Linked DNA regions of Homo sapiens: all the other regions are linked to region 1. Evidence: fine-mapped expression QTL. A gene starts in region 1. Each other region holds a variant in brackets. All regions are shown on one strand. Distances are between the middles of the regions.

Region 1 (5,745 bases):
GCTTGTTTGTGTGACAGCTGTCTTCTTTGCATCTTCTTTGCCTTCGCTCTTTCAACCATCCTCAAGATGTACAAATGACATTTGCAGAACCGGTTCATGGAGGCGGTCCTTCTAAACAATCATTGAAATGAGTGTATCTATGAGGGGGCTTCTCCTATCCATGAGGGTGTAGAAGGTTCCCGGGTTAAACGGGATGAGAGGCAAACCTTGAAAAGAATCTGACAGAAATGAGAGCCAGGAGGAGGGGGAGAAGCCCTGTGCTGGGTCCTTGGCCCTAGCAACGATTAGTGGAAATGGCCGTGCCTGCGTCGTTGAGGGCTGTTTTCCCATAATTTAGCACACAGAATGGTACAGAAAAGGGCTCCCAAGCATTGTCATACAAAAGGAGAGTCAAGCTTGTGGCAGGAAATAGCAAGAGTTTAGGCCGCTTTGTGGTTGAGTCAAGAGCTGCTTTCGACTTTCCAGCTCTTCTTCAGAGCCAAGTAGTGGCTCAAGGGGTCCTGAGCTCAGAGCATCAGGAAGCCCGGAGGGGTGCTGGCAAAAACGGACTTCAGCAGAACCCTTTCTAGGACAGTGGGGATGGGGCTGGGATTCCCCAAAGGAGTGCTACAGCTCCCACAGACTGTGGCCAACCCTACCTTCCCAGGAACCTGGGGGCCACACACGCAAAACCCTGCTTTTGCAGAGAACAGCATGCAAGCCAGGCACGAGCACCCCTGGCCTTCTGTCTCTGCCTCCAAGCAGAAGGAAGGAGAATCTCCTGTGCAAAAGGGACTATGCGGTGGGGGAGGTGGGGGGTGGCAGGGGCATGTGAGCCTGCCTGGAGACGCCTCCCCAATATCCTGATCTGGCTCTGACCATTAAACTAACACATTTATAACACATGTGCACATACTAATATATGCACATAAATTAAGGGTGTAAGTGAATAGTAACAGCCTTCTAATGTGCAGAGCTTTCTGATTTTAGGTGAATAAAAAAAATGCCAGTACTTTTGCATCAAAGAGAGAGATAAACTTGCTAATTGAAAACTGGTTTTCGTGGAGGAAAATATGGAGGCGCCAGCTATGTAAATCAGCATATGCCCAGATCTAAAAGAAATCAGGCCAGGCCAAGAGGAAATTAAGCAAATCAGGATAATGAGGAAACAACCCTAGACGCAAATTAAAAGCACTCGGGTGCTTTAGGCCATCTCAGGAGGTTGGCAGTGGACAGGTGGGAGGTGATGCGAACACGGGTTTGGAGTACCAGGCGTGTCAGTGCCGCTGGGTGGGTGGGTGCCTGCTCTCCCACCCAGGTCAGGGAGGGTTTTTCATGCAAGTTCTTAAATGCATGGATCATAATGCTGCCTTTTGCATCCAGAAAGACCCTTCAAATGCCTCTAACAACACTGGTCTCGCGCTGGCATTAGCTGTGCTTGGGTTTCCTGGGTTTAGCGACCTAAGGGGTTTACAGCGCACGGAAGTCTCTGCCCAGCTGTCAGCGCGCGTCGCCAGGGGCTGCACTGAAGCTGTGGACCCGGGATGGGGAGGAGGCTGGCGGCCTCCGAAGCAGGGTCTACAGCGGGGGAGGGCTAGCGCCGTCTGGCGGTGGCTGCGCGTGGCCAGTGCGGACCCAGGCTCGGCTCGGCCGGCGCTGCCTGCGTGTGGTCCGGGCGGAGCGAGGGTCCTTGGAGCCCGGTTCGTCCTGGGTCCCAGGAAGCTCGGCGTGCAGCGTCAGAGGCCGCGTGTGCTGGGGGAGGGAGGAGTACAGACTGTGCCTGGGGGCATCCAGGACGAATTCACAGAGGGGTGGTCCTGCCCCACCCAGGGGGTGTCGTGGGCAAAGGCCCTGGGGCCACCTGCCTGGTGCCTTGGAGGGCGTAGGGCAGGAGCCGCCGAGGCCCGCGGGCCACTGTGGGGCGCGGAACTTCAGACCAGGCACCCGCGGCTCAACTTCCGGGCCAGGGGACCCGCGGGGGCCTTACGAACCTGTTTGGCCCATTTGTGCAACAGAAATCCGCCCGCGCCTAGCAGCGTCCGGGGCCGCCTGCGCCGGATCCGCAGCCCAGTACCCTCCGCGCCCTGGACTCCGAGGAGGCCAGGTAGAGAGCGGCTCGCGCGGTCCCCGTCTGCGCCCTCAGCCCCGCGCTGGGCAGCGGGACATGCCTGGCTCCGGCGCCGCCACCTCGGCTTCCGCTTGCCCTTGAGTGCGGAGCCCGGAGCCTCCCTCGCGGTGCGCTGGGTCCCAGAGGGCCAGAGGCCACCAGGGGGCCGGCATCGGCGGGAGCCCAGCCGGGCGCGCCCTCGGCCCTCTCCCACCCACGTCCTCCGCGGCCGCCCGGGTCCAGGGGCGCAGCGGGGAGGAGACCCCGGCCAGGGCCGGGGAGCGCGAGGGCGGGGCGGGGTCCGGCGGGGAGGGGCGCGGGCGGGCGGGGACCGGGGCGGGGGCCGGGTCCGGGGGCGGCGGCGGCGCGGGCGGGAGGAGGAGGAGCTTCCCGCGCGGGGCAGGGGCGGAGCGAGCGGCCGCGCCGCGGAGCCAAGTGAGTTCGCTCCGGAGCCGCGCCGCCGCCGGCCCAGCATCTCGGGCGCCCGCCGCCCCCGCCGCCGCCGTCAGCGCGGGGATGTAGGATGCAGGCGGGCGCCAGGTTCCAGCGGCGGCGGCGGCAGCTGCAGCAGCAGCAGCCCCGGCGGCGGCAGCCTCTCCTCTGGCCGATGGACGCAGAGCCGCCGCCGCCGCCGCCCTGGGTCTGGATGGTGCCGGGCTCGGCCGGGCTGCTCCGGCTCAGCGCGGGGGTCGTGGTTCCCCCGGTGCTGCTCGCCTCGGCCCCGCCGCCCGCGGCCCCGCTGCTCCCCGGTCTCCCCGGCTGGCCGGCCCCGAGCGAGCCGGTGCTCCCGCTGCTGCCGCTGCCCTCTGCGCCAGACTCCGCCGCCGCCGCCGCCGCGCACCCCTTCCCCGCGCTCCACGGGCAGGTAACGTGTCCCCGTCCCGCCTCGGCCCGGGTCGCCGTCTCCCCTGCTCCTGGGCGCGCCCTGCCCGGCCCGGCTCTGGCCTCCGGCTCGCGCGCCCTCCTCCCCGGCGGTCCTCGCCGCCCCAAACCCTCAGGACGGAGCCCGGCAGCCGTGCCTCGGCGAGAAAGTTCGTGCTTGGACGCCCGGTCGTCCACCTCCGCAGCTTTGGCAGGTGCCTCCGGGTGTCTGGACGGAGCCGTGGAGGGACCCGCCGCCCAGGCCCGCGTGGGGACCGCAGGGAACTCGCGCCACGCCGGGGGTCACTGTCCATCGCGAGGTGCTGAAGTGGCTCCGTGACCGCCGCGGGCCGTGGCTGACATCGCGGAGAAGTTAGGACTTTCACAGTCTCTGCCAGACTTGAAAGCAAGCTGGAAATCGATAGCTGTTTCAGCTGTTTCAGATTCTAATCTGGTTTGGGTTTTTCCCCCTTTCATTTGAAAATAGACTCAGGGCAATGCTTAAGAGAATTCCAACCGACGGAAGTGGCCGGGAAATCCTGCCTTCGGTACTGAGGGATGTTACCGGAGATTCCCCTGCCCCAGGCCTGCCGGAGTCCACCACATTCGCTAATGCCACACTGCACTTTAGAACTAGAGTTTGGCTTTTAAGACATGGGATTAAAAAGAAAAAGTGACTGAACCTTTGATAAATGGTGCAGCAGAGCTAGGCGGGCTGGTTTGGGCAAGATTCATTGTCAGCTAACTATGCAGATGCATTTAAATCAGGGAATAGCGTGCATTTTATTCCAAGGATTGACCTCATTAGCATATTCAAACGGGTGTTATGTTAGAATACACCATTTGATTAATTTAATTCCAATATTATCTTGTGAGCTTTTCTAAAAGATGTTGTTAAACTCCTGCTAAATTGGTCTTTAGACTTAATGATACATCACATATGCAGCACTGGATATTGTATTTTTATGTGTGATGCAGTTTATTTTGGATTTTATTCAAGAAACGTTGGTAGTTTTTGCCGTATTTTGGAGGGGTGTTATATCAGAGTGCTGCCACTAGAGGTATATAATGTCAAGGAACTACATTTTTTAAATTCTGCTTTAAAAAACTGCATTTTTTCACTTATATAAATTTAAAAGAAAATTTAAAAAACCTTAGCATTAATCTTTTAAATATTTTTGTGCTACCCAGCTTCTGTAAAGTAAGAATATGTACAACCAGAAGAACATTTTCATGTAACAGGAACATCACAAATGCTTTTACGATTTTAAAACAATAGGTACTGAAACGTTCCATGTCATTGAGCAATGCATTTTATTAGTGCCTTATGAGGTCTCAGTTATTTTAATTAGAGAGACGGTGCCCTGAATTACCAGCCCCTTTCCATGACTGATGTTTTATTCTGTGTATTGAGATCTTCAACTTAGAAGATGCTTAGTTTTTTTTTTTTTTTTTTTTTTTTTGCCATAGAATCTATTTGTATTGGTGAACCTTGTATTGGTGAAACTTGGAATCTTAACTTCCTAGATATTTTCATTTTGAAAGTATTAGTTATTTGTAAAACGACAAAAGTAATTAATACAAAATGCAATGCTGAAAGGAATATTATAAAATATAGCCCTAAGCCTGCCTATAAAAATAATTTAAGAATTAGAAAAGGAATACCCAGCATTTCTCTTCTTCATGGTGATTTCTCATTATCTCAGAGCAGAAACCCATTTCTTACTGCGTGCTTGTGGTTTTGTGCTTAGAAGTTCTTTTTCAGTATTGAAGAATGCAATGTTGGTAATGCTTTGTGATGATTCAGATATGAAAACTTCTATAATTTTTTCTTTGATTGGTACATACTTATAGTTTTTCTCGAGGAAATTTATCTGATAATCAAATACATACATTTTGAAATTCCCTTTTCAAAGCAGTTATTCCAGCATGTTTTGGCATGAAGTCGAGTGGATGGATTCAGGCTAATGCAGCTGTCTTTTCTTGCTTGGCTTGCAGTGGCTGTTTGGTGGCCATTCTCCGTCCCTAGGACTGCCCCCCTCTTCCACAGTGGAGCTGGTGCCCGTCTTCCCACATCTCTGCCCTTCTGCTCTTGCAACCCCTATTGGGAAAAGTTGGATAGACAAAAGGATTCCTAACTGTAAGGTAAAAACGCAAGTGATTTAATTGGATAAGGGGCTTTTAATGATTAAGTTGTCGAACATCGACATAACAACAAAAATACCCATGTATTTTCTTGTTGCCATAAATTGGCCATCTAGGTATAGAAATAAATCATTTCAGGATTAGATTGATTTGTTCAAAAATATCAGCTGGTGGGGGGCATTTTGTTTTAGTTTAGGATATTTGGATTCCACAGGGCAATGTAAAATTTCCAATTTTTGAATCAGAGTCTTTTTTAAAATTTTTTTGTTTTTAAATTTGTATCCATTGATCAAAAATCTAGACTTGAACATTACACAATACCAGTTGAAGTTTTAAAAGTCAGTTTTTCTTCATATGATGCTTTAAGTTTTCATCTTTCTAATGGTTTGTTTTGGCTTTCGGGTTCAAATTTACTGACTACATTTTGTTCACAAGGAAACTAAAGAAGTAAAGTATTGACTTGTCATACAGCTTAGTCATTATCTCATTGGGGTGATTCTTCAATCAGTGAACTGAACTGCTGGGCTGAAGTGACCAAGTCAATAGTTGAAGGCCAGCCCAGAAGACATTAGCTAGATGGTGATCGGTATTGAAGCCCTGTGGAACTTCTTTAAGTTTTAGAATGATGGTTTTATAGAGTCCCCAATAATAGA
Region 2 (5,745 bases), 110 kb after region 1:
AACCTTTGCAGCCTCTTAGGAAGGATGAGGTCCGCCGTGCTGAGCCTCCAAGACCAGGTGACCTCAGCAAGGTGGCTGCGGACATGCTGCCTTTCCAGGAAGTGGCAGTCAGAGATGCCAGGGTGGCCCCATGACCCCAGGCCAGGATGTGCCCTGCCAAGGGAAGGCCATGGAAGGCGGCGTTTACCTCCACGTCCCCAGGGCTGCACTGGAGCTACTTAAGAGAAGCATTTTTAAATAAAAGTTCAGCCTGTTACAAAATTCCCTAATGTGAGATACAGGCTGGAATGAGGCAATTCCACAGAGAAATCATTGTGGGAATAATTCACATCTAATGTAGTTTCATGAAGGATGCTATTTCCAGAGTCTAACTTTTTCTCCCTTTTTCTCTCACTTTTTGATTTTATTGCTGTTTTTTTTTTTTTTTACATTAGGAGAAATTGAAAACCTGTTTAGGTTTCATAGCTTCACATTTCTGAAGCAAGTGACACAGCAGAGAGTTGGGATGCATCTGATTTGTGCCTCACAATGAGGCGTGCACGTCACTGGTTAATTATGTGGCGTTCCATAAAGGAGAGCTGTTGGGATAAAAGGATGAATTGCGAGCATTAACCTTCTTTTTCCCTTTTTAAGGGGACCACTTGTCAGTCACAACGGCAGTAAAGCCAGGTGTAATGAAATTGGATTTTGGGAGAGGCTGCCATTGAGTTGATGCCATGGGCCGCTTGGTCTGGGAGAGGCTGGATTCTCAGTGCAGCCCCAGAAAGAGCCGGGTGGCAGGGGTTGAGGGCATGACAGGTCCAGGGACAGGGGCCTTAGACCAGATCCAGCTGCAGAGCACGTGAGCCCTGACCCCATGGTCAAGACCCTGGACTTCAAGCAGAAAGGCCACTGGGCTTGTGGTCAGAGATGGTGTGAACCTCCATCAAGGATCCCTTCCTCTGCCTGTTCATAAAACCGAGAGGTGGGCTCTTCTCTCCAGCCAACCTGTTCTGCCTGGGGCCAGGCTGTGAAGGGGCTGAGGGACAAGTCCACTGCCATCGGGGCCTCTCCCTGAAGGGAGTCTTCTGCCCCAAGAAACATTCTTCCCTTACCCGCAGGCTCATTGGTTTATTTTAGCCTCTAGTGGAAGGACACTGGACAGATGTCCTTTGATTTGAGGACACACACCTTTGGATCTGAGCTGGCTCCGTGCCCCACTGGAGCCCACACAGTGACTGTGGCCACCGCTGCTGGGAAGCCAGGACCCACCATCACGGACAGTTTCTCCACTGTACATGGGAAATGGCTTTGACAGGTGCTTTCTGGCATTTGGGGTGGATGGACTCATCCTCATCCCCATTTTCAAGCTGTGCATATGGAGGCCATGTAGATGCGGGGGCAGGGTGGGGGGGCAGGTGCCAGTTTCCTGAGCCTGCTTGTGGTGGGGCCATCGGGCCAGCCCACTTGCTGGTTTGTGACCTGTCTCAGTCTGTTCCCGCTCCTCTATACTCTTAGACTAGACAATTTATAGAGATGAGAAATGCTTTTCTTACAGGTCTGGAGAATGGAAAGTCCAGGACCAAGGCATCAGCAGATCTGGTGCCTGATGAGAGCTGCCAAGACCCTAGCTAGGCCCAGGCCCAGTGCTAAGCCACCAGGCTTCCAAGATGGCGCCTCCTTGCTGTGTCCTCCCATGGCAGGAGGGAGCAAGGGCTAAGAGGGCCTAGCTGGTTCCCTTCGGGCCTTCCATGAGGTCGCTCATTCCATCCATGAGGGCTCTGCTCTCATCACTTCACATCTCCTAAAGGTTTCACCTCTTCATATCGTCCTATTGGGGCTTAGCTTCCTACTTTGGGGTTTTGTGGGGACTCACGTATTCATGCCCTAGTGTGACCTAATGTGACATCACGCCTCTCCCCTCCCAGCTGGGTTGCGGTGGAGACAGCCAGCTGTCCCCTTAAGATGCCCACCCCCCACTTGGAGGAGGTCTGAAGTGGAAAGTGGCTAGGGAGGCTGCCATCACATTTCCCAGGCTGCCCCCAGGGCTAGCGCTCGCCGGCGGGATGTGAGCAGAAGCAGCAGTTAGGAGAGTGCCTTCCCCACCTCCCGGCCCCTACTGGCCTCTGGATTCCAACCTCTCTGAAACTCGGTATGGCAGGGCCACAAACCAGAAGCAGATGTGTCCCTGAATCGTTTGCGGTGACCCACATTCATCCTCATGGGAGAGACGCACCATCTTCGAATGTGAACGGTTGACATGACGGGGGCGTTTTCCCATGAGGCTGAGAAGTCCTGTGCATGCATTCCCTTAAAATAGAGACGTGAGCACCTGTGATTGGGGCCAGCTTGGATGTTCTACCAGAGGCAGTTTGCTGTCTGGTCAAAGAGGTCTTAGGGTGCTTTTTTGTCATCAGCCTCATTAAACAGTGAGCTGATCTTAAGTGACGAGACCATGAAGGTCACCACTGTGACATACTGGAAGTCTTTTTTTTTTTGAGACGGAGTCTCACTCTGTCACCCATGCGAGAGTGCAGTGGGACGTACTGGAAGTCTTAAGTGAGGTCATCTACCACCCAGCTGTGCTCTGTAACCCAGAGAGCGCAGCTCGGAGGGCTGAAGACAGGTATACGCATATCCATGAACACTGTCACTACTCCTGAGAAGG[C/T]GTCACTGCTGTCATTGAAAAGCTTTGAGGGCTGTTGTCTATGGTTCTTGAATTTGTAAGTGGAATTCCTGGCAGCTGTGTGATAAATCAAGCACATCGGTGTCGGCGTGACCTTTGACTTCTGTCCCCACAATCTGTGAACCAGAATAAACCTCTTCACTCAAACTTCCACTTAGGATGGCACCTGGTTAATATGAATCATGAAGCAATCAAAACTGAGGTGTACGTTTCCACAGACGGCAGACTTAATTATTTAAGTGTTTCTTTTTTCTAAATAAACTGTAAAAAATGAACATATTTTATTTTAAAAATGGAAACAATTTAGAAGCTTATAGAATCAAGCTCCTCCCAACCCTATTCTTCTCATATTGGAAACTTCTATTGATAATCAGATAATCAGAATATTTCCAGTGTATTCCATGCAAGCCTATGGATTCCTGAAAATGTGGAGAGGATGTTATTGACTTGAATTCCGCTACGTTACTGTTTTACTTAGCAGTGTACCTTAAAGACCAAAATGTAGTGAACTTGAAAAAATCTGTTTTTTATTTTTATTTTTTTTTGGAGATGGAGTCTTGCTCTGTCACCCAGGCTGGAGTGCAGTGGCATGATCTTGTCTTACTGCAACCTCCGCCTCCCAGGTTCAAGGGATTCTCCTGCCTCAGTCTCCCTGTATCTGGGATTACAGGCACTCGCCACCACGCCTGGCTCATTTTTGTATTTTTAGTGGTAATGGGGTTTCACCATGTTGCGCAGACTGGTCTCGGACTCCTGACCTCAGGTGATCCGCCCTCCTCGGCCTCCCAAAGTGTTGGGATTACAGGCATGAACCACCGCGCCCGGCGAAAAAGTTCCGGCCTTACCAGCTTTTGTGGTACCCCACGGTGCAGACATGCGCATACCTACTTGCTTTGGGGGCATCAGTCTGTTTCTAACGTGGGCTGTTACAATCAGTTGAGCGTGTACGTTCTCTGTGCTCCTTCATGTGGTCGGGAGGCTCACGTGCAGCTGGTGATCATGCAGTTTGGTACAACGCTTCTGGAAAGAAATGGATTAATATAAATCGAGACTCTTAATTAGTTTGTCTGTTTAACCCAGCAGTTCTGTCCATGGGACCTTTCCTAAGGAGCAGTCATCGGAAACGCATTACAGGATCTGGAGAGAACCAGCCCCCGTGACCCCCACGTGGCCCTGGGACTTGTTAGAGCTTTCTAGCATCTTTCATTGGCTCTTTCCTCGTCTCTGAGGAAGGTCGATGGATGCGCCTTCAGCACAGCGTGGTGGTGGACGTGGGGTAAAAGAGCAGCCATGTTTAGCAAAGCCGGCAGCTCTGAAAAACTCACTCACAGCTGAGCATTTAGAAGGTCATTACAGTCCCGCAGAGAAGGACGCATGAGGACATCCCACAGAATGCAGTGTAAAATTCGGAGATTAAATATAAAAAAGAAGTCCAAATGCCCAACAGCAGCAGCAGAGCAAATTGCAGTCCATGTTTTGTAGAAATATTTGGCAGCCATTGATTTATTTTATTTTTATATATTTTTTTATTTGCAGCCATTTAAATCATGCTTATTAAGAGCTTCTAAGATTGTGGCGTTTGTTAAAATAGTAAGTAAAGCAACAATTCTACATTGGCAGTGACGGGTCCATAATGAATGAATGAAACTGAAGTACTGGGACCCTCCTTTTTGGCGCCTTACGAGACCCCGGGGAACTCTTGGCGCTGTGCTCCCACGATCACGTGTCTGTGTAAAATCTGCGGATGTTCGATGGCCTCAGGAAGGCTGCTGTCTGTTCCCAGCGTGACCCTCTCTGTCGCTGTCCCTGCCTTGTGGGTGGTGGTGGAGTGTTTGTAGGTGTGGCAGGACCCAGCTGGGGGAAGGGAGGTGCTTCATTTAGTTTGAGTTTAGTGGGATGTGTTTTGGGGGCTCACTTTCCAGGGAGGCAAAGCCAGCTATGCGGGTGGTGGGCCTGACTCTCAGGAATTCTTTCACCTCTTGTGATGGTTCCAATGTGTCCCCTCCACGTTTCATGTGTTGAAACTTAGTTGCCAGTGTGATGGTGTCAAGAGGCACGGCCTTTAACAGGTCATGAGACCACAAAAGCTGCCCTCCACGTCCAAGATGGCGCCGTGATTCTGTATCCGCCCGAGGGGAGGGAGGCTGTGTCCTCACAGCACTGGCAGGAGGGGGAAAGGCAAGTGGGAGATAACCGTGCGAGAAGCCTCTTTTATAAGGGCCTCCATCCCCTTTGCCAGGGAGGATCCCTTGTGATCTAAGCGACTCCTAAAGGCCCCACCTCTTAATGTGTTCACATGACCATTAAGTTTTAACTTCTAAATTTTAGAGGGGACATATTCAATTATATTATTCTACTCTGACCCTCAAAACTTGAGTCCTTCCCACACGCAAAATACATTCATTCCATTTCAGTAATTCCAAACGTTTTAACTTGTTCTAGCATCAACTCAAAAGCGCAGAGTCTTTTAAACATCATATGAGTGAGACCCAAAGTGTGATTTATTCCGAGGAAAATTTCCCTCCAGCTGTGAGCCTGCGAAATCAAGCAAGTCATCCGATTCCAAAATACAATGGTGGAACACACATAGGATAAACATCCTGATTCCAAAAAGGAGACATAGGCAAGAAGGAAAGAGTAGCTGATCCAAAGTAATTTCAATACCCAACAATGCAAATGGCATTACATCTCGAGGTTTGAGAATCACCTTCTTTGACTCCATGTTCCAGACACAGGAGCAGGGGTTGGGCCCTCCACACTCCTTGGGGTGGAGTGGCCAGGAACTTGCATCAGACAACAGAGCTGCCAGTGCCTTGGCCTTGGACTTCTGTCCTCTGTTCTTCATAAAATACCCAGCCTCAGCTCGTTTGTCTAGCAGCACAAACGAGACTAAGGCAGAAACTGGTGCTGAGAAGTGGGCTATTGCCATAAAATATACCCAACATGTGAATGCAGCTTTAGAACCAGGAATGGGGCAGAGGCTGGAATCGTTTCAGAGTGAATGCTGGGAAAAGCCTGCATTGCCATGAACAGAGCATTAAGGACGATCCTGGTGAGAGCTCAGAGGAGGGGAGAGCTGT
Region 3 (5,745 bases), 140 kb after region 1:
TACTCCAAGCCTGGATGACAAGAGCAAAACTCCATCTCAAAAAAAAAAAAAAAAAATCATTGATTATTCTCTCTACAACAATTCTGCAAGTGGATGAGACCTTATATGCTCTTGGATGTGAAACCATTCATATATGGAAATGGGGTCACTAGATTGTGACAAACACAGAAACAGGGCTCCAGTGACTCCCGGTTGGCTCCTGCCACCCTACCACCATCATGGCTGGCACAGGCCTGGGTGTTCTCCCCAAGAATGGAGGCGACTGGACAGGCGTGCATGTCCAACCAAGCAAGGCTCGCGTGAGCTGGTCTCAGGGTCTGCTCCCAGCTGCGAGCGGAGCCAGCGCGCGTGGAGCACGCGTGATATGGATGCTCCTCATGAACCCTTTTCATAATGGCTGTAGTCTACAACAATCGAGAACTCCAAGCCCTCCCAGTTTCCTCCAGCCTCAGGGGTGGTGGAGACCATCTGTGAGTCAACGCCCTCCTCAGCCTAAGAGATTTCCTGCCTAGTTCCAAGATCATCAGAGGAGGTTGGTTTCAAATGCATGAGCGGTTGCTCTCGGCTTTCAGAATAGAAAGGTGAAATTCTCTCTCCCTGTTCCTTGGGGCCCATTCACTTCCCTGGGTTCCCCTCCTCCCCCGTGGGGTCCATTCACTTCCCCGGGTTCCCCTCCTCCCCCGTGGGGTCCATTCACTTCCCCGGGTTCCCCTCCTCCCCGGGCAGGAAACCAGAAGACGCATGTTCTTACAGCCTCATGGTGAGGGCTGCAACTCCAGTTCCTTTGGGATTTACTCCACACGCTTCCAGATATCATGTTGACACTTGGAATCCCAGAACTGGAAGAGAATCAAGACAGTTTCTTTTATGGATGAGGAAACTGAGGTCAAAGGAGGTCAATATTTATGGAATTAAAATTGGACTGACTTTCAGAATTACTTTTTGCATTGGGAGATACTGATATATTTCTAATAACTTTTTGATGAGTTAGACACTTTTGACTTCCTAGAGTAGTTCTTTATTTTAATAATTTTTAAAGAAACAAACTCTTTTGAATGTTAAAATAAATTCCTGGGCCAGGCGCAGTGGCTCACGCCTGTAATCCCAGCACTTTGGGAGGCCGAGGCAGGAGGATCACCTGAGGTCAGGAGTTCGACACCAGCCTGGCCAACATGGTGAAACCCTATCTCTACTAAAAATACAAAAATGAGCCAGGTGTGGTGGCGCATGCCTGTAATCTCAGCTGCTCGGGAGGCTGAGACGGGAGAATCACTTGAAGGACAGGAGAATCACTTGAAGGTTGCAGTGAACCCACTCCAGCCTGGATGACAGAGTGAGACCCTGTCTCTAAATAAATAAATAAATAAATTCCTGATACTTCATTCAATGTAAGAAGCATTTGCTGGTCTTAGGGTGTGTGATGACTACATGGCATATGCCATCAACTGGACCCGCATCCTGGTGCTGCCTTTGAGCTGAGGCCTGACCCCAGGTGATGATGATACCTTTGAGTCTTCACCTTCCAGGCACTCTAGGAGAACAGGTGCCTCGGGCCTGGATTAATGACTGAGAAGCGCAATACGGAAAAGCTTCCAGGACCCTGACCCCGGGTCAGGCACAAGCAAACCCACCTCCCCCTTCTTTCAGGGAAACAGGGCGAATTGATTGCTGAGTTCCAAGAGTTTCTGAAGCTAAGACTTGCCCAGGAGATAGGACAGTTTTTCTTTCCACACTTTTCTTTCTTTTTTTCTTTCTTCTTTTTTTTGGTGTGTGTTTTTGTTTTTGTTTTTGTTTTTGTTTGAGATGGAGCCTCGCTCTGTCACCCAGGCTGGAATGCAGTGGCGTGATCTCAGCTCACTGCAACCTCCGCCTCCCAGGTTCAAGCAATTCTCTGCTTCAGCTTCCTGAGTAGCTGGGATTACAGGCATACACCACCATGCCCAGCTAATTTTTGTATTTTTAGTAGAGACAGGGTTTCACCATCTTGGCCAGGCTGGTCTTGAACTCTTGACCTCGTGATCCGCCCACCTCGGCCTCCCAAAGTGCTGGGATTATAGGTGTGAGCCACGGCGCCCGGCCGCCACACTTTTCTTAAAGAGATATTTTGTTGCCCGGTTTGACTTCAAGAGGCTGGTGTTGAATACTTTTCCCCTGGATGCCCTCCCCAGTCCCTGCGGCCCTTTGAGAGAGGAGGAGAGGAGTGTCTAATTGCTCACAGTACTTCCTCTCACTTCTTCCCCACCAGCAAGGACGGTCGTGCTGGACTCTATAAGAGCAGTGAATAAATGCTTGTCAGCTGACTGGCGTGGGAGTTTTTAGCACAGGCTTTTTTGCTTCCTTCCAGACTTCATGCGACCTTCTCAGTTCTCTTTGTCTCTCATCACTGCCAGGAGGAAAATTACATTGAAGGGCACTGGGGAGCTGGGGAGCACTTCACATCTCAGAGCTGGGTTTGATCAATAGAGGCATTGCCCAGAAAGGTATTACCGCCGTGCCTCTCTCGGAGGGCGGAAATACATTGCATGCTCCCCGAAGTACTTTAGCGCCCATGGTCTTACACTTGTTGATTTTCCTCCATAAACTAGTTCTGTCTGCCACTCAAGGGAGGAGTTTATGACAACATCATCAGAGTTTGTGGAGAGGCCCAAAGCAAAGAGTACTTAAGCATGTCAGAGTGGACCCTGGAAGTGGCCCCCGGAGAGCCGTAGAATAAGCACTTCCACGGTGGAATGGCTGACACGCAGACCCAATTATGTGTGTGAGCCCCTGGTGCCACCCACACACCTCCAAGGTACCTGCAAAATCA[A/G]TGACTGTGAAAGAGTGCCGGTTATTAAGAAAACTATTTAGGGCAAGGCACAAACATTTGTCGCAGGTATTCCGGGGTGTGTGTCTGTGACTGGGGGCTTTAAAATGATCATCAACAATATCTCCTCTAAGAAGCACTCATGAGGAACAATGTAAATCCGTTTATCTCAAAAGCCAGACTTTAAGATCTGATTTTTTACAAGATCAACTGTTTTCAATATGAAAAATATCTTAATATGTTTTCTCAAGGTAATGGGGAGTAAACTAGGCAATGCTGTCATTTGAGAACAGTATTATGGGCTTACGGCCTCCTCGCAGGCTGCCAGTGTTCCTAACACAGTTTTTCACAATGTGTATTTATTTACATGCTCGTAGAAGATACAGACGTGCATTTCTGCTACTGAGATTGCTGTGTGTTTTATAGGCACCTGCCATATTGAAAACATAGAGTGTGTGGCATATAATTAAAACACAACCTCAGCTTTCCGTGCACGACCCCTCCAGACTTCCTCCCTGGGACTTGCTCTTTGCTGTACTTTAGATAAAATTTAAACCAATTCACTTTTGGCTCATTCTTAGGTAGTAAAAAGCCATCCACTCATATCCAGTCAAAAAATAGGTCTCAGAGCAGTCGTGAAATATGTGGAGTGCTGGGTCATTGAATCACCAAGTTTAACTTCCCTCGTCCCATCGCTTGGGCCTGCTTTGCGTTGGGTCTGTGAGGGCAGGGGAACGGTGGGCTCAGCTTCCTTTGTGTGCCCCCTTGTGCCTCAGTCAGGGGGCTGCTTCTGGTGTCTGCAGGATGGAGGCAGAGGGACAGAGCCCTGGGTTTTTTAATGAGGGTTCCCCAGGGCATGGCTGTGTCCCCATCTGCTTGCCCCTTTCTGTGGCATAGAGGTAGTGACCAGCTAATCCCATCTTGTAGATGAGGAGGCAGAGATGGGGTGGGGACAGGACGACCCTGCAGGATCAGGACAGAGACCCGGTGTCCAGGCTGCTTGATGACCGCTGCACCTTGACAAGAATGGGCTCTGGGAGTAATTCTTAACAGAGTTCCGGAAATCTTAATGCAATCCAGGGACTCTGCTTCTCTTCCTGAGTGACAGTAAAATATTTCCACTGTCCTGAAATCTTTTCTTGACTCAGGCTTGGTTACCTGGTTCAGTGAAAAGCCGATAGTCCCTTCCCCAAGGCCAACCTTGAAATAGACCTGTGCACGCAGCTGTCAGGCCTGAGGGCGTCTCTTGGGGTGGTCATGGCTGTATGGGAGCCCTGTGGTCGGCCTTGGCAGGCCTCTTGTGAAGGAAGAGTGTGCAGTGTAGACTCTGTGTGGACACCCTCGTAAAGTGGCAATGACGGAGGAGGCCGGCGCCCTCAGGGATCCCTGCTCAGCCTATTTGCCAGCAGCCGGCACTAAGGGCAGACCAGCCACCCAGCCCTGGGGAGAGCCTGCCCGGCAGGGCGCTGTGCAGAGTGAAAGAGGTGGACAGGCTGGGCATTCCTCCACCCGCTCACTGGATGGAGGGGAGTCAGGGGTGGAATGCTGTGTTTCTGCCTCATCCGAACTCAGCACCTCCGGGGATGGGGCCTCCGGCTCACGTCTGGGCTGCCTTAGTGTTGCTGCTCCGCACCTGAAATAAATTTGCTGATTGACCCAACTCAAATGAGGGGCTTCCTCCCAAGGGTGCTGGGGAGGGATGCCTTGCAGACCACCTGGCTCTGCAGCCGCAAGCCAGACAGGTGCCAATGCCCACGGAGGACATGACAGCTGGCCCCATGCAGAGCTATGCAAATCTCCTTCCCGGAGCTGCAGAGGGGCCCCAGTTTGCAGTGGGGCAAGGAAGAAAGGCTAGAAGGTGGGGTGTGCCAGTGGGACCCCCAGTCTTGCCTTTCACCCCCTTCAAGCACAGACGTGTAGCTTGAAGGGGCCAGAGGACATCCTTTCTATGTGTGTGTGTGCATATACGCACCTGTGTGTTGTGTGCACACACGTATAAAGTGATTTACGTTAATTCCCCATCCTTCCGTCTACCAGGAAGGAGCATACCCAGGCCTCCCTGACTGCACTGCCCAGTCTTGAGCTCTGGATCAAGCTAAACAAATCTCTGCTTCCCAAGGGTCCTGCCCTGCACACCCATGAGACCTGGCCAGGGCTTTCCTTTGAGAACTTATCTATTGTTTTAGGTTGGTGTGTGGTTAGATGGTTTGGGTCCTTCTTTTTATTCTTGGTATTAAAACAGAGCTCAACCTTGCTTTACTGTTTTTCCCTGAATCTACTTGCAAAATTTTGAGAGTTAGATAGACATTTTTGGAGAAGACAAAAAAGTAACAATCTTTGGGAATTTGCAGAATCCCTTCCTCCCCTGAAACAAGCACCTTTCCAAGTGCTGTGGGTCCGGCCCCCTGGAAAAACCAGGGCCCACCATGGCGGCCAGTAAGCCACGGTCACTGGCGGTGTGGCCTGCACATAGCCCCTCCTGTCCCCTTGGCAGGGCCAGGACCAAGGGCAGCCCATCATGGCCACCAGCTGGCAGAACCTCAGCAAGGCTGGTTCTGTTGTCCTACACTGGCCCTTTGTCCTTCTTGGGAAGGTCCTGTGTCCTATTCATCTGTGACCCACGTGGCCCAGTTCACAAGGCTTGGCCAACAGTGTTTTAGATGGCACCCAGCCTGGGCATAGATGGAGTCCAGGGCGCAGGTTGGCATCACTGGAGGAGGCTCCTGACTGCCCAGCGCACTGGGGGCCCCACAATGCGAGAGAGCAGCCCCAAGACATCCACACACCTGGGCACAGCACTCCCACCCTGGGCCCACTGGGCTGCGAGTGTGAGGGTTGTCACAGCCTCACCCTGGTGATTGTCACCAGATGGACAACAGCCAAGTCTCGGGCCTCCCACTTTTGGGCTTGTTTCCTGCTTGTCCAAGAGGCTGAGTCCAGGG
Region 4 (5,745 bases), 160 kb after region 1:
TTTATAAGAGTCTGGCACTTCCCCTGCTGGCACTCATTCTCTCTCCTGCTGCCCTGTGAAGAGGTGCCTTCTGCCATGATTGTAAGTTTCCTGAGGCCTCCCCAGTCATGAGGAACTGTGAGTCAATTAAACCTCTTTTCTTTATAAATTACCCAGTCTCAGGTATCTCCTTACAGCAATGTGAGAATGGACTCATACAGCCACTGACCTGCCCTCAGCCTAGCGCAGGATGACAGGAGATCCACGTGTGCTATCGGGGCCCAAAGTTGAAGTCCTGTTTCTCTTAAACTCTGCAGTGGGCAGAACAGAGCTCTTGCTGGTCCCTGCCAGGAAATGGGTCATCCTCTCACCTCTTTCAGCTTCTTCTTCCCCCAGTCCTCTGGCCCTCAACTGGCTCAGGGCTCACCCCTGGGTGTTCAGGAAAGCTGGCGAGTTACCAAGTTAGGAAAGCTCCCCAAGCCAGTGGGAGGGTTGGGATTGGATGGGGCCACTCAGCCAGTCTGAGCCTGTGTCCCGAGGCCTCTGGCTTCCGGATAATTCTCCCGTGGCCCTGTTGCTTGTGGAATGCAGTATGAATGCCTGACACTGTGTGCACCTAGCAGCTCTTAGTGAACTGGAGATGCCTCAGTGAGCATCTGGCCCCTGGCTGAGTATCCCCACACTTCAGTGACTCTAGAGGAGCACACAGGTCCCCCCACCTCTGGGTGAGGCCGTTGGAGGCTGGGGGCCAGATGGCCTCCTGCCAGAAACATGGTGCTCAACAGGTCCATCTGCTGTACCCAGGTCACAGGAAGTTGTTCTGTGCTCTCCAGGTGAGGTCAGGCTCCTGGTGAGACCTTCATGGGTTTACACAACAGGTTTTAAGTCTTAAGTTGCTAGAGAGGAACACAGAGAGCCAAGGACGCTTCTAGGATTTGCCACTCAGACCAGTTGCAGCAAAACATCATGAAAAAACATCCCAAGCAATACTGTTAGAAATGGGCCCTCTTGCTGCTGGGAGCTTCAGGCTTGGGGCTGCCTTTCCAGCCACTGTCCAGTCATGGAAGCTTCTGAAGCCCTTGAGGGGCCGGATCTGGGCTTCCTCTGGTCCTGACATGCTGGGCATGAGACATACAGCATGAGGAGGCGGGCTCAGGGTTTCTTCACTCCCTGCACCCCCGCTGGCATCAGGGTCTCATCGATGAGTCTAGCTGCATTCCTTGCAAGAGGGGTGCCTGGAGACAGAGCCCAATGTCGCAGTAGTAAAACTGTCCACGTCCTACGTGTTGCCAAAGAGCCCAGGCCTCGTGGGGAGCTAATAATAGGCTCTGCCTGTGGCCCACTCACTCACAGCTCCACCCGGGAAGCAGGTCATCACCAGGTCTGCGTCTGGAGGAAAGGAGTCAGTCTCTACCCTGGGCTTATGTTCCCTATTGGCCCATGCTGTCTGCAGAGTTCATATAGTAGCTGAATTGTGCATAATTTACAGCACAGTGTGGTTACCTTCAGCTTTAGACTCAATAAAAACTTCCTATGCTAGCCGGGTTCTGCACCATAAATGCATACCCACAGCCTCCCTGCAGGCCCCAGAGGTCAGGTATCCCTGGCCTGGGCTTGCTGGGGACAATGGTCTGCCTGATCTGAGAGCAGGAAGGGATCCAGCTACCTGGGTGTGGAGTCTGCTGTAGTTGGCCAGCCTCATTTTCCAGCCTCCAGCATGGGCCTGGGCAGCACCCCACGGGCCCATGAGCCCGCTCCCCTGAGGGCAGGACCTGGCATGGGAGTGTGATACACTCTATCTTGGTCCATTTCCCTAGTTGGGTGGACTGTCCAGATAAAGCAAATTCCCATTCCACCCCCCATCTGAAGGGTTGAGGGCATGAGGCCACCAGCGAGGGGAGGCGACCTTCTCAGGGTCACCTGGTAGGTCAAGGGCAGGGCTGGAGCTGGAAAGTTTGCCAGGCAGAAGGGCAGGTCATATTCTCCCACATGGATGACCAGGCCAGCTGTGGCCAAGGCCTCCAGGCACAACACTTGGGGTTCAGGTCAGGGCTCCCAGATGCTGGTGCTCAGGACAGAGTCGCCCCGAGGGGGAAGCCCATTGATTCGTCTCCCACAGACTCAGGGCTCCAGCGACACACATTGATTCTCTTACAGTTGGGAGGATCAGAAGTCTGACACAGGTCTCACTGGGCGAAAGTCAAGGTGTGGGCAGGGCTGGATCCTTCTGGAGCCTATGGGGAGGTCCATTTCCTGCCTTTTCCATCTTCCAGAGGCCCCTGCAACCCTGAGCTCGTGATTCCTTTCTCCAGCCTCAAGGCCAGGCATCTCCCGATCTCTGTCTCTCCGTGTGTGTGTGCATGTGTGTCTCTGTGTGTGTCTACGTGTGCATGTGTGTCTGTGTGTCTGTATTTGTGTGTATGTGTGTTTCTCTGCATGTGTGTGTCTCTGTGCATGTGTATATGTGTGCATTTGTGTCCCTTTGTGTGTGTATATATGTGTGCATGTGTCTGTGTATGTGTCTGTGTGTGTTTATGTGTGTATCTCTGCATGTGTGTGTCTCTGTGTGCATGTGTGTCTCTGTATATCTGTGTGTTTATGTGTGTGTCTCTATGTCTGTGTGCATGTGTGTCTCTGTGTGTCTGTTTGTGTGTATGTGTGTTTGTGTGTGTCTCTGAGAGTGTGTTTGTGTGAAACACCTCTGCCTCCATCTTCCTATCTCTTCCTCACTGATCTTCCCACCTCCCTCTTAGAAGGACCCTTGTGATTACATTTGGGGCCACCTGAATGACCAGGCTATTCCCCCATCTCAGGGTCCTAATCCCAACTGTACAGACCCTTTGCCATGTAAGGTGATGCACACCTGTTCTAGGGATCAGGACGTGGACGTCTTTGGAGCCATCATTTTGGCTCCCACACTCATGAGCGTGGCTGGGCTGAGTAGTGGAGCCGGCACACCTTCTCAGGGTGATTTCTGGGAGGGGTCCTGGTCTGCCCAGGGTTGCCAACATGCAGGGCCCCAGGCCCTGAGCCCTCTGCCTGGCCCATGGAACGTGCCTGGGTGAGTGAAGTGTGGAGTGATTTTCTGCATGCAGAACAGAGTGGCTTCTTTTGGCACGAATCCCCAGCTCCTCCCGAACCTGTGCGAGGCTGGCGGGAGTGAGGCGTGAGTGGGCTACCGGGGGCCTAGGCCGTGCCCGACAGTACCCCCAACAGGTCGGGGGCCTCCCTCGGGGAAGTCAATAGCTAGAGGTGGGTATGTGGGTGTTCCCACCCATTCACTCCTGCACATCTGAAAAGTCCCAGGAGACTTGCGGAGCCAGAGGGACCTTCTGAAGTCACTGCAGGAAGCCGAGGCCCAGAGAGGGGAGGGGGCTTGCCCCAGGGGAACCTCCTGGGAGGTCCACACCTGGAACGGGCCTCGGTGCCAGCACAGGCCTCAATCTCTAA[T/C]AGCACCCTGACACGACTTAGGGGTTAAACCCAGAGCCCCGGCCGGCCTTGCTGGCCTTTATCTGCCGCGCTTGCTCGTGGGGACAGCGCGGGGTCAGAGTGTCAGAGTGCAGAGTCTCCCGTGCACCTCCATGCCGCAGGCTCCCGGACCCGCATTCCTTAGGGAGGGACTTTTTTCCTTTCCTTCCCTCTCATTAATTTTCTTCTCTTCATTTTTTTTTCTTTTTAATCTTTTCTGATAACTTTTCACAGATAAGGGGCTTAAAAAGGGCACATAATTCCTTTTAGATGTCTTCAGTTTCCATAAATGAAAATACAAATCTTCCTTATTTGCCCATCCACAAATGAGCAGGACACCGGGGCTGTGGTTGCTAATGACAGCAGCCCTTTTAATTCTGCTGCTGCCGGAGGGTAATGACCTGTGGCCGTGCGCATTGCTTGATGGCCATGCAGAGCTCAACTGGGGAAGTGTAGGGAGCCGCTCTCCGAATTACTCTATTGCCGGAACCAGGGCCAGGAGGCGCCCCAGAGTGCTCTGCATCTGGAATGGAATTTCACTGAGGCAGTGACAGCTGGTGGGCTGGAGAGAGCTCTGCCTGCCTGTGACCTTGATGAGCTGCTTGGCTTCTCTGAATGTTGTTGTTCTCCCTGGTCTAAGGCTGGTGATAAGAATGTCTACCTGTTAATCAAATGAGTCAGATCCGTAAGGTCACCTAAAAAGGCAGGCTTTGTCTTTAGTATTCATACTATCCATAAACAAGCTTTGCAAATGTGTGGATTTCGGTCCTGAGGGGCTTTTTCAGTGAGAGTTCATGCTAACGACTTTCTAATTAAGTGTCTCCGAGAGCGACTGAGATGAGTTTTTCCACTCAAACAGGTGTGTGGTCTGGACGGGCGATGACCGAGTTTTCTTCTTCAACCCAACGATGCACCTGTCTGTCTGGGAGAAGCCCATGGACCTGAAGGACCGCGGAGACCTCAACAGGATCATTGAGGACCCGCCCCACAAACGCAAGCTGGAGGCACCAGCAAGTAACTAAGCCCTGGGTTATTTACACCTCCTTTGAAGTGTTTAAGCTGCTTATTTCTAATGAACGTAAAGTGAAAGCATGTTTCTTCTTGGTTATGTTGAAAATTGACTATTAAGGAATCCTGTGCCCGATTGCAGAGTTTAGTAATCAAGTTTTTATGGCACTTCCTGCAGAAACCTTGATCCTTCCAAGCGGTCGGCTCTGGCTGTCTTTTTGCATCACGTAAGGTGATTAACGCAGAGATGGCCATTCATTCCCTCCGCCCCTCAAAGCTTCCATCCAGCATCACTGTTACCCAGCATTTTATTCTTGTTCCAAATGTCTTATGAACGCCACTTCAGAGACCAGATGTACGCAGATGGGAGTGTGTTTTCTTCCACCTTACATTCACTTTAGACCTTTGCAGCACATTGATCTGCTGTTGTGCTTGGATGGATGCCTCAATTCCATAAAACCCTGGTCACGGACAGGGGAAGAGATTTTCTTCAGCTGCAGAGGAATGGGGTGCTTGGCAGAGGCAGTTGTTTCTGACAATGCCTGTAAATCTTGTTTCGCCAAGAAACAGAGAGGAACTTTCAGCATTTTCACAAAGGATCTTTTCCGATTAGATCTAATACATATTTTATTAGCTGCTGCGTGGGGAAAGCCCTCCTCCCAGAGCATGTGGATTCAAACGGTCTTGACTCCACTGCAGACATTTGAGAGCAGGAGCTCCCTGCCAACTTGAGAGGCAGAGATGCCTGGCTACAAGGCCAGGCCAGTGAAAGGGGAGCTTGACTCTTTGTTTTAGTTTTGTGTGGTATTCTATTGGGTTCTTAGTGGCATTTTTAATTTCACGTCATTGAGGGCTAATGCTAGATGATGGTAATTCACACTTTGTGTCAAATCCAGAGGTATTTGACTGAAGCTTCAGAAGACAGTATTATAAAAGTTTTATCAGCATTTTTAACCATGCTAAGAGACATGGTGGTAGTCTTTTAAGATTGAGACATCACACATTTAAAATGTTTATTCCATTTAAAATAGTAACAGCATTATCCAGAGACTGGATCAACTGATGTTGGGAAAAGAAAAATCTCCAAGGTCCATATGGAGTTGAGTCTGTAAAACGTTGCTGTATTTACAGACAATGAAGATTGAATTTGGCAATTGCATTTCCTCCTTTGATCAGGTCACATTCATTATTAAAAGAGGGCCTTGTACGTCTTGAAAGAGTGCTTTAAAATCATGACAGGAAGCACCCTTTCAAGGTTCTTACTCATGGACAAGAAGATGGTGCACAGTT

Alleles and levels. Alleles are on the strand shown, and positions count from the first base shown. SD is a standard deviation of normalised expression in the study named. Not every link is listed here.
With allele G in place of A in region 3, the expression in thyroid of the gene that starts at base 2,524 in region 1 is higher (moderate effect, 0.68 SD a copy in GTEx).

Evidence for each region.
Region 2: its variant is fine-mapped to the expression of TCERG1L in thyroid (GTEx, PIP above 0.99).
Region 3: its variant is fine-mapped to the expression of TCERG1L in thyroid (GTEx, PIP above 0.99).
Region 4: its variant is fine-mapped to the expression of TCERG1L in thyroid (GTEx, PIP above 0.99).

The regions. Positions count from the first base shown.
Region 1 is chr10:131,308,500-131,314,244 of GRCh38, reverse strand. It overlaps TCERG1L (transcription elongation regulator 1 like), which reads left to right and starts at 2,524. Exons shown (of 12, transcript NM_174937.4): 1 at 2,524-2,951; 2 at 4,946-5,092. The coding sequence starts at 2,610. It overlaps LOC101927461 (a long non-coding RNA gene), which reads right to left and starts at 2,389. Exons shown (of 3, transcript XR_242763.6): 1 at 1,971-2,389; 2 at 1-111.
Region 2 is chr10:131,200,047-131,205,791 of GRCh38, reverse strand. All of the region lies in intron 4 of TCERG1L (transcription elongation regulator 1 like), which reads left to right. It overlaps LOC105378563 (a long non-coding RNA gene), which reads left to right. Exons shown (of 5, transcript XR_946484.1): 4 at 1-1,273; 5 at 1,538-3,239. Among named protein-coding and RNA genes, the nearest start is that of TCERG1L-AS1, 110 kb to the right of the region's middle. The variant C/T (reference allele first, on the strand shown) is at 2,648.
Region 3 is chr10:131,167,200-131,172,944 of GRCh38, reverse strand. All of the region lies in intron 4 of TCERG1L (transcription elongation regulator 1 like), which reads left to right. Among named protein-coding and RNA genes, the nearest start is that of TCERG1L-AS1, 75 kb to the right of the region's middle. RefSeq lists an enhancer at 5,139-5,639. The variant A/G (reference allele first, on the strand shown) is at 2,807.
Region 4 is chr10:131,145,222-131,150,966 of GRCh38, reverse strand. TCERG1L (transcription elongation regulator 1 like) reads left to right here. Exons shown (of 12, transcript NM_174937.4): 7 at 4,307-4,461. Among named protein-coding and RNA genes, the nearest start is that of TCERG1L-AS1, 53 kb to the right of the region's middle. RefSeq lists an enhancer at 3,316-3,817. The variant T/C (reference allele first, on the strand shown) is at 3,430.